Linked DNA regions of Homo sapiens. The protein of the gene in region 1 purifies or fractionates together with the protein of each later gene. This does not show direct contact. Each region holds a gene or a part of one and is shown on either strand. Other genes may lie near its edges.

What was found.
Region 2: the proteins of CHD9 (region 1) and MAB21L3 purify together in Homo sapiens (co-immunoprecipitation; one large-scale study listed by IntAct). This does not show direct contact.

Annotation. Positions count from the first base shown.
Region 1 is NC_000016.10:53,306,340-53,310,164, forward strand, and holds part of CHD9 (chromodomain-helicase-DNA-binding protein 9), read left to right. Parts: coding exon 1-58; intron 59-1,341; coding exon 1,342-1,614; intron 1,615-2,346; coding exon 2,347-2,515; intron 2,516-3,825. UniProt on the Homo sapiens protein: Probable ATP-dependent chromatin-remodeling factor. Acts as a transcriptional coactivator for PPARA and possibly other nuclear receptors. Has DNA-dependent ATPase activity and binds to A/T-rich DNA.
Region 2 is NC_000001.11:116,121,321-116,125,145, forward strand, and holds part of MAB21L3 (protein mab-21-like 3), read left to right. Parts: exon of another isoform or gene 1-38; intron 39-810; exon of another isoform or gene 811-895; intron 896-2,274; exon of another isoform or gene 2,275-2,745; coding exon 2,746-3,037; intron 3,038-3,825.

The DNA.
Region 1 (3,825 bases):
AGAGTCTGCTTATATCTTACAAGGTGGATATATGCTGGCAGCCTCGTATTGGCCAAAGGTAAAGAAATAATTTCTTATTGGGATAGGTCATTTTTTAGTATTTTTCTATATTGCTTCAATGGTAGATATTCTTACTATGTGGAAACATAGGTCAGCGTAAAATGTAGGATGACATTTTGGTGTTAGCTCCAAAAGTATAAATTACTGCTATCAAGTAAATAGTTCTGCTTTAATGTGTATGCTTCTCAACATAACTTTAGAATGTTTAGAATAAAAGATAATGAATCCTTACTTTCAAGTTAATCCTAAAGTGCTTCTTTATGAAACAGGTGCTTTTGACTGAGTCTCCTTGAAGAAGTTTACTGTAGCCAGTTGTGACCTAGAATGAAAAGTTCATTTAAATACATGTACATTCAGTGGAAGAAGAAAGATTGAATTAATACAGATTTTCTTCCTTTTTTTTTGAGTCTCACTCTGTCGCCCAAGCTGGCTTACAGTGGCACAATCTCAGCTCACTGCAACCTCCGCCTCCCAGGTTCATGCAGTTCACCTGCCTCAGCCTCCCAAGTAGCTGAGATTACAGGCACCCACCACCCTACCTGGCTAATTTTTGTATTTTTAGCTGAGACAGGGTTTCACCATGTCGGCCAGGATGGTCTCGAACTCCTGACCTCAAGTGATCCGCTTGCCTCGGCCTCCCAAAGTGCTGAGATTACAGGTGTGAGCCAGTGCACCTGACCAATTTTTCTTCCATTATGTGACTAGACTAGTGCTGGAATACTTACCTTTAAGAATGAGGTTGGGAAATGGGAGAATGGAGGGTTTTCTCCTCTTCTGTGTACGTCTAAGTTGTTTGAACTTATTAGGAGTCTGTATTACTTTTTAATTATAACAGCAAAAATAAAACTATCTTTGTGGTATAATTTTTTGTCTGTTTGTTTGTTTGTGAGACACGGTCTTACTCTGTCACCCAGGCTGGAGTATAGTGGCACAATTTTTTAATTTTTTGCAGAGACAGGGTTTTGCTATGTTTCCCAGGCTGGTCTCAATCTCCTGGCTTCAAGCACTCCTACCACCTTGGCCTCCCAAAGTGCTGGGATTACAGACAGGTGTGAGCCACCACGCCTGCTTATGGTATAATATTTTTGAACTTCACCAAAGGGAATCTGTACTCAAATAACTTGTTGCAGAATTGTAATATATATATACACGAGAATATGTATGCATAGCACATACACATATGTTGAACTAGGGTTAAATCCATAGACTCTTGAGCTATTTGATCTCCAAAGGTCTGATCTAATTATTAAAATTACACTTTGATGTTGCACGCTTTTCTAGGATCGTGTGATGATCAATAGGTTGGACAGTATTTGTCAAACAGTTCTGAAAGGAAAGTGGCCTTCAGCTAGAAGAAGTTATGATGCTAACACAGTGGCTTCTTTCTATACCACAAAACTGCTGGACAGCCCTGGAGCAGCTACAGAATACAGCGATCCCAGTGTACCCACTCCCCCAGGTGCCGGTGTTAAAGAAGAACATGATCAGTCAACACAGATGTCAAAGGTGAAGAAGCATGTACGAGAAAAGGAGTTTACAGTGAAAATCAAAGACGTATGTGTATTTTTATTGCCCTAGGGCCTGATTGCGATTGCGGTGTGCAGCATGCTTTTCCTGCAAATGGCTGCCTGCTCTTACTCTTCCTTCCTTCACATACCTGTTTCTTGGTATTTGGATTATTTTCTTTCTGATATCCAGGTTATTAAACTTGAATATTCTACTAGAGGGATCGTCATTAAATATGTTTTTCTCTTTATGCTTCTGAAAATAGTTCTAATCAAAATGCTTTCTTAAACAGTGTGGCAATTTCTAATTGTTTTGGTTCTTTTATATAGTATTTAAATAGTATGTCAGTGTACTTTCTGTTTTAAACATTTAGCATGCCCTGTTATCAGTATTGTTTCATTTTTAAATGATTTTTGAAGCTTAACTTATTACTTAGTGTCTAAAACATAGTTAATGTCCTCCAAAATGTCATATGAATAATGTACATAGAGATGTATGTCTAAAGTTAAAAATGTTACAGTGTACTAGTAACATCTTGTTTTGGTCAGAAAAGTGTGTAGAGTACTTGTATTTTTTTCATTCAAAATAGAAAATTTGGTGTTATTATAGAAATTGATTTAAAATGTTTTTATTTGACTGATTTATGAATGAGAAATGAACTTCTTTGATGTTTCAGGATTTTTACTTCATTTTTTTTCCTCAGTAAAAAAATTCTCTTAATATCCTGCAATAAGATTTTTTTTAACAGTTTCTGTCTTAATAATGGTATTTGTTTAACAGGAAGGTGGTTTGAAGTTGACATTTCAGAAGCAAGGGCTTGCTCAGAAAAGACCATTTGATGGTGAAGACGGTGCTCTGGGGCAGCAGCAGTACCTCACTCGGCTTCGAGAGCTTCAAAGTGCATCAGAGACCAGCCTCGTCAATTTCCCAAAATCCATACCAGTATCAGGTGAATATGCAAGTAATAATTGTCTTACTATGAAATATTTTCTGTCATGTCCAAATCTTCTTTTATAGATGCTTGTAATAAAAATTTATTTTTCCTTTGTTGGAACCTCTTAAGCCTATAAAGTAATCAATAGAATTTTAAATCTTAACAAATATTTTTTGGAACTTTTAACATGACATTTTAAAGCATAAAGGGCAGTTTTCATTTTGGGGCCTAGAGTAGTTGTGTGGGAACATCATTTTGTCAAGTTGCCTCATACAGGTAAAAGTTCAAACTGCATTTCAGTATCACAAATTAATGGTGATTGGTAGAAGAAATTAAAAAGAGAAGTTTTAGAAAAACTTTAGAGATTGTACAGTCCAGGCATCTTCAGGATACAGGTGTTATCTATGACTAATCCCTAAAAGGTAATTATTCATCCTTAGGGAATACTTACAGAAACAAGGTTCCTTAAATAGCCCTTTTTATTATTGGGCAGCTCAAATTGTCAGAAAATTCCTCTATTTAGAAGTAAATTTTGCCTCCTATAGGTTCTTCTCAATTATCGAAGTTCTGTCTTTAAAAGGCAATGCATAATTAACCTAATCCTGTGTCTACATGATAAATCTTAGCATTTTGAAAGCAATTATCAGATCTCCCCTACAAACTATCTGTCTGTCTTCTAATCTTTTGGCAGTTTGAATCAACACATATTTATTAAATACCTAATTGGTGGTGCCCTGTGCTGTGTACTCCGTAGGCATTGAGGAATGCATTAGACATTGGTTTTAGTTTTTGTTTTGTTTTGGATTTCTGTTGAGATAGTGTCTCACTATGTTGCCTAGGCTGGTCCTAAACTCCTGACCTCAAACGATCCTCCCACCTGGCCTCCCAAAGCTCTGAGATTACAGGCATGAGCCACCACGCCCAGCCTGTTTTTGTTTTATCTTAGTACTTTAATTTATCTGTGTTCCTCTAAAAGTGTGATGTCAAGAATTGAGAATGAAAATTTAAAAAAAAAAGTTGAGAATGGTACTCAAGATTAACTGAGTCTTAATGCGTGGACCACAACATACTGATCTCCTAAAGTACTAGTTGTCAATTCAAGCAAATAAGTGTCTTGAATTTCCCTTCCTTGTGCATAAAGTTAAAGACTGTACTTCAGTATTCTACTAAGTCTAGTTGCCAAGCAATACATGCTGTATTATAAGTGTTGTCTTGAACTGATCACTATTTCCAAATGCTGCTATTACCACTTCTTAAATTATAAATTAGTTTAGCTTCATCAGCATCAGTTTGGTCTCTTGTGGATTCATTAACCATTCAATGTA
Region 2 (3,825 bases), on another chromosome or scaffold:
TTTGAGACCAGCCTGGGCAATGTAGTGAGATTCTGTCTCTATAGAAAAAGAAAAAAAGATAGATGTTATTTCCTTTGAGCCCCCACATTCCTAGATGAGAAAAACTAGGCTCAGAGAAGTCAAATGACTTGATCAAGTCATATCAGGCACTAAAGCCAGAACTCACACAGAGGCTTTTGATTCCAAAGCACATTCCGCTGTCACAATCAAAGCTCAGTTAAATACACATTCATTTATTAAGCACCTACTTAATAGATTGGGGGTGGGGTGGAGGGAACTGAGGGCATCCATAAGAAGACAGTTGAAAGTCAGTCTGTGGGTTGCAGATGGGGAAGGAAGAAAGTAGAAGAGGTGCCACTGAGAAGCTGCAGGAGCAGACTGGCAACCCCTCTCCCTGCTAAAGAATCCCACCCAGTGTAAGCCAATGGGTAACACCAGCATTCAGGCAACACAGTAGTGAGGGCAGAGCTGTACACAGAGAAACGACCTTACTTAAACCTGTAAACCACCTTGTGGAAAAGACAATCTGTTCATTTCCATTTTAGAGGTAAGAGAAGTGAGATCCTGAATCATTCTGAATCTCCATTATTCTTTATCTCGATTTTTATTATGCCACCTACCTCTTTCACTTTGTATTAAATTTGTATGTATTCATGGCCCATTTCTCACAACAGACTGCACATCCCTCGATTGTAAGGACCAAGTTTACTATTCGTTTTGTTCCTAGCACCCAGCATGGTATGTGGCACATGGTAGACACTTAACATATGTGGAATGAATGAATAAATGAATGAGTAAAAGAATTAGTACCTGAGCAAAAGACCATTGCTGGCCCATTACATCTCAAGGTTGGTGGACGCAGGAACCACCTAAGAGATTCTGGGATTTGTGGATTCTGAAACAGACTCAGATTGTAGGAAATTAATCCCAGGGTGAAAATTATAAAACCAGACTGAATCCTGGAATGCTAGAATATCACTTGCCCAACTCTACCACCCAAGCCAATCTAACTTGGACACACATAGACCAGTGACTAGAAATAGAGATATTACATTACTTTTCTTAGCACTATACCCAAGGAAATTTCCTTCAGTGGTCCCACTTAGAATTCATAGCTTAAAATATATCTTGCATTTATATATGTCATGTCTCACATATTAAGTTTTGAAAATAGCTACAGCATAGCATATAAAATTGCTTTTAACTTAGATCAAAATCAACAAGTTTTTGTTTGTTTTGCTTTTTTGCCTGTTTTTTAAAGATAGGGTCTCATTCTGTCACCCAGGCCGGAGTGCAGTGCTGCGATCATGGCTCACTGCAGCCTCAACCTCCCAGGCTTAAGTGATTTTCCCACCTCAGCCACCTGAGCAGCTGGGACTACAAGTGCAAATGCCACCATGCCTGGTTAATTTTTTTATTTTTATTTTTTGTAGAGATGGATTTCATCATATTGCCCAAGCTGCTCAACAAATATCTACTAAGCACCACTTATATGACTAATAACATGATAGTTGTGCTTTTGAATTCACATGAAAGTGAATTGAAATAATGTACAGATCTGAAATTCCAGGGACTTTAGATGTTTTTCCTCTTTTTAAATCCAGCTGCCTTTCTATGGGTACCAGAAGTCATGTGGATACATCATCTAAAACATCAAACTATTGTTTTCTTAGAGTTAGACAGAACCAGCTGGAGCTGATTAGGGCTTTCCCCACTCAATGGGTCAATGACTGGCCCTGGGCAAGAGTTAACCAAATTCCATGGTCAGAGCTTTCCAGGAGGAGGAGGCAGCTGACTCACAGCCGAAGGCGTGCATGCAGTGGGACATGGTCATAGTTCAAGCTCCTTTGGCTGCTCTGTTTACCCACTTGTTCTACCTCTCGGCTGCCGGTCTGCCTGCTTTCCCCCAGTCGTTGCTTCACTGGTTCCTGGAGAAAGGGGCTAGGTAAATTCTGATTGTTTGCTTTTTTCTTTAAGCTTAGAATCATCTCAACAGCTCACATTGTCTCAACAAATAAGCTTTCATTTTGCCTTTATTTTGGAAGGGTTAGTCATGAACACTGACCATAGGTCATCAGTACAGGCCAAAAAAAAAAGGAGATATTTTACAAAATCTGTTACGTCCCCTCCTGTTACTTCCCACCTTTAATTTGTGTCAAAACATTCACCATTCCATGTCATTCATTGTTGGCTGAGTGCCAGCCCAGGGTAGAGAAATAATAACTGAACAAGCTGTCCAAAGACCTAAATTCAAATTCTGACTCTTCTACTTACTGGTTGTGTGTCCCTGAGGAGATCTCCAAGCCCCTCTGCATCTTGAATTCCTTATCTGGAAAATGGCAAGAAAGCTCACCTTACTGTGTGACTGTGAAGTTGAAATGGTCAAATGCATTAGAATTACGGTGTTGCGTCTGCATGGAACTGAATGCATACTCATTCTTCTTTCTCAAACCTTAGGTCTCCTCTGGAGTTCCTGGTTTAGTTCACTGTCTTTACTTGTATATTCATGAGATAATAAACTCAGCAGGTTAATTTACTTGCCCGAAGTATTTACAATGATTCAGTAGCAGAACAAAGAGGTAATCCACTTGTAACACCCAGGTCGAGGTCTCCGTGTATCTGGTCACTCTGCTGAGGGTGGAGTGGTTAACAGAGCTGCCTGACGAGACAGGTTGGTTCCCAGGACTTCCGTTACCTCCCGAATCTGTGAATTCATGCTTGTTTTCAATCCTTTCCTGACCCTAGGTTTTGGCTCCCAGTCAGTTCCTCGTCACAGTCCCAATAAAAGGCCTGGCCGGGTACAGGGAGGCCAGGGAGCAGCACTGGCGGTACTACACACTGCAGGGCACCAGGCTGCCCTGCCCGTTGCGGGACCCTGAGGGTCTGCAGCAGTGGCTGGAGGTGGAACAGTTTATGAAGAGCCTGTGGCAGTGGCATGAGACAGATGTGAACATCGACGGAGACATTGTGCCTGCCAAGGTCCTCCTAGTGTTCCGGAAGCTGGTGGAAAATGCAGTTAGAACCTGTCACCTCTCAGGTGAGCTGATCAGGAACAAGTGCAAGGGTAATTGCTGGCATTCCCCTTTCACTCTATAAAACCTCTGTTTGGGTGTTACCTGCAGCTCACAGCCTACATTTGAGAAAATAATCATGTGCTCTTCACATTTATTTAATCTTCATAATATGAATCAGCTTTTTTTCCTGCTGTTGATGCACAGAAGATTGGAATTCATACTAACAAAATAGTCTTGTGGCTTTAAGAAAGTTACTGTGCTGGCATAGATATAAAATGCTGTGGATTATGCACCTTAACCAGGCTTAAAAACTTAAGCGTATTGTTTTTTAAAAAAGCAAATTATTCACAAACCCCAGGTCTTCTTTATTAGCACATTTCTACTGCAGCACCTCCATCTGACTGCAGTACCACAGGGTGCTGAGATTCCACATTTGGAAACCACTAACTTGTACCAAAGCACAAAATCCAGGAGCCATAAAGAACTGACTAAGTTTGACAACTCCAAAGTCTTAAGCTACTGTACAGCATATGCATACACACACACACACACACATACACACACACACACACTCCCTTTTTGTTCACACAAAGCGAAAAGGTGAATTTCAAACTGGAAAGAAATGGCTAATTTTCTTAATTTATAAATCAATAAGAAAAAAGATGAGCTGACCAATAGAGATAATTACCAAAAAAAAAAAAGGAATCACAGAAAAAGAATACAAATGGCTTGCAAAAATAAGAAAAGGCATTCCATCTAATGTATATTTCAACGTATATTAGAATATACCTAATGTTGGGTGCATTAAAAT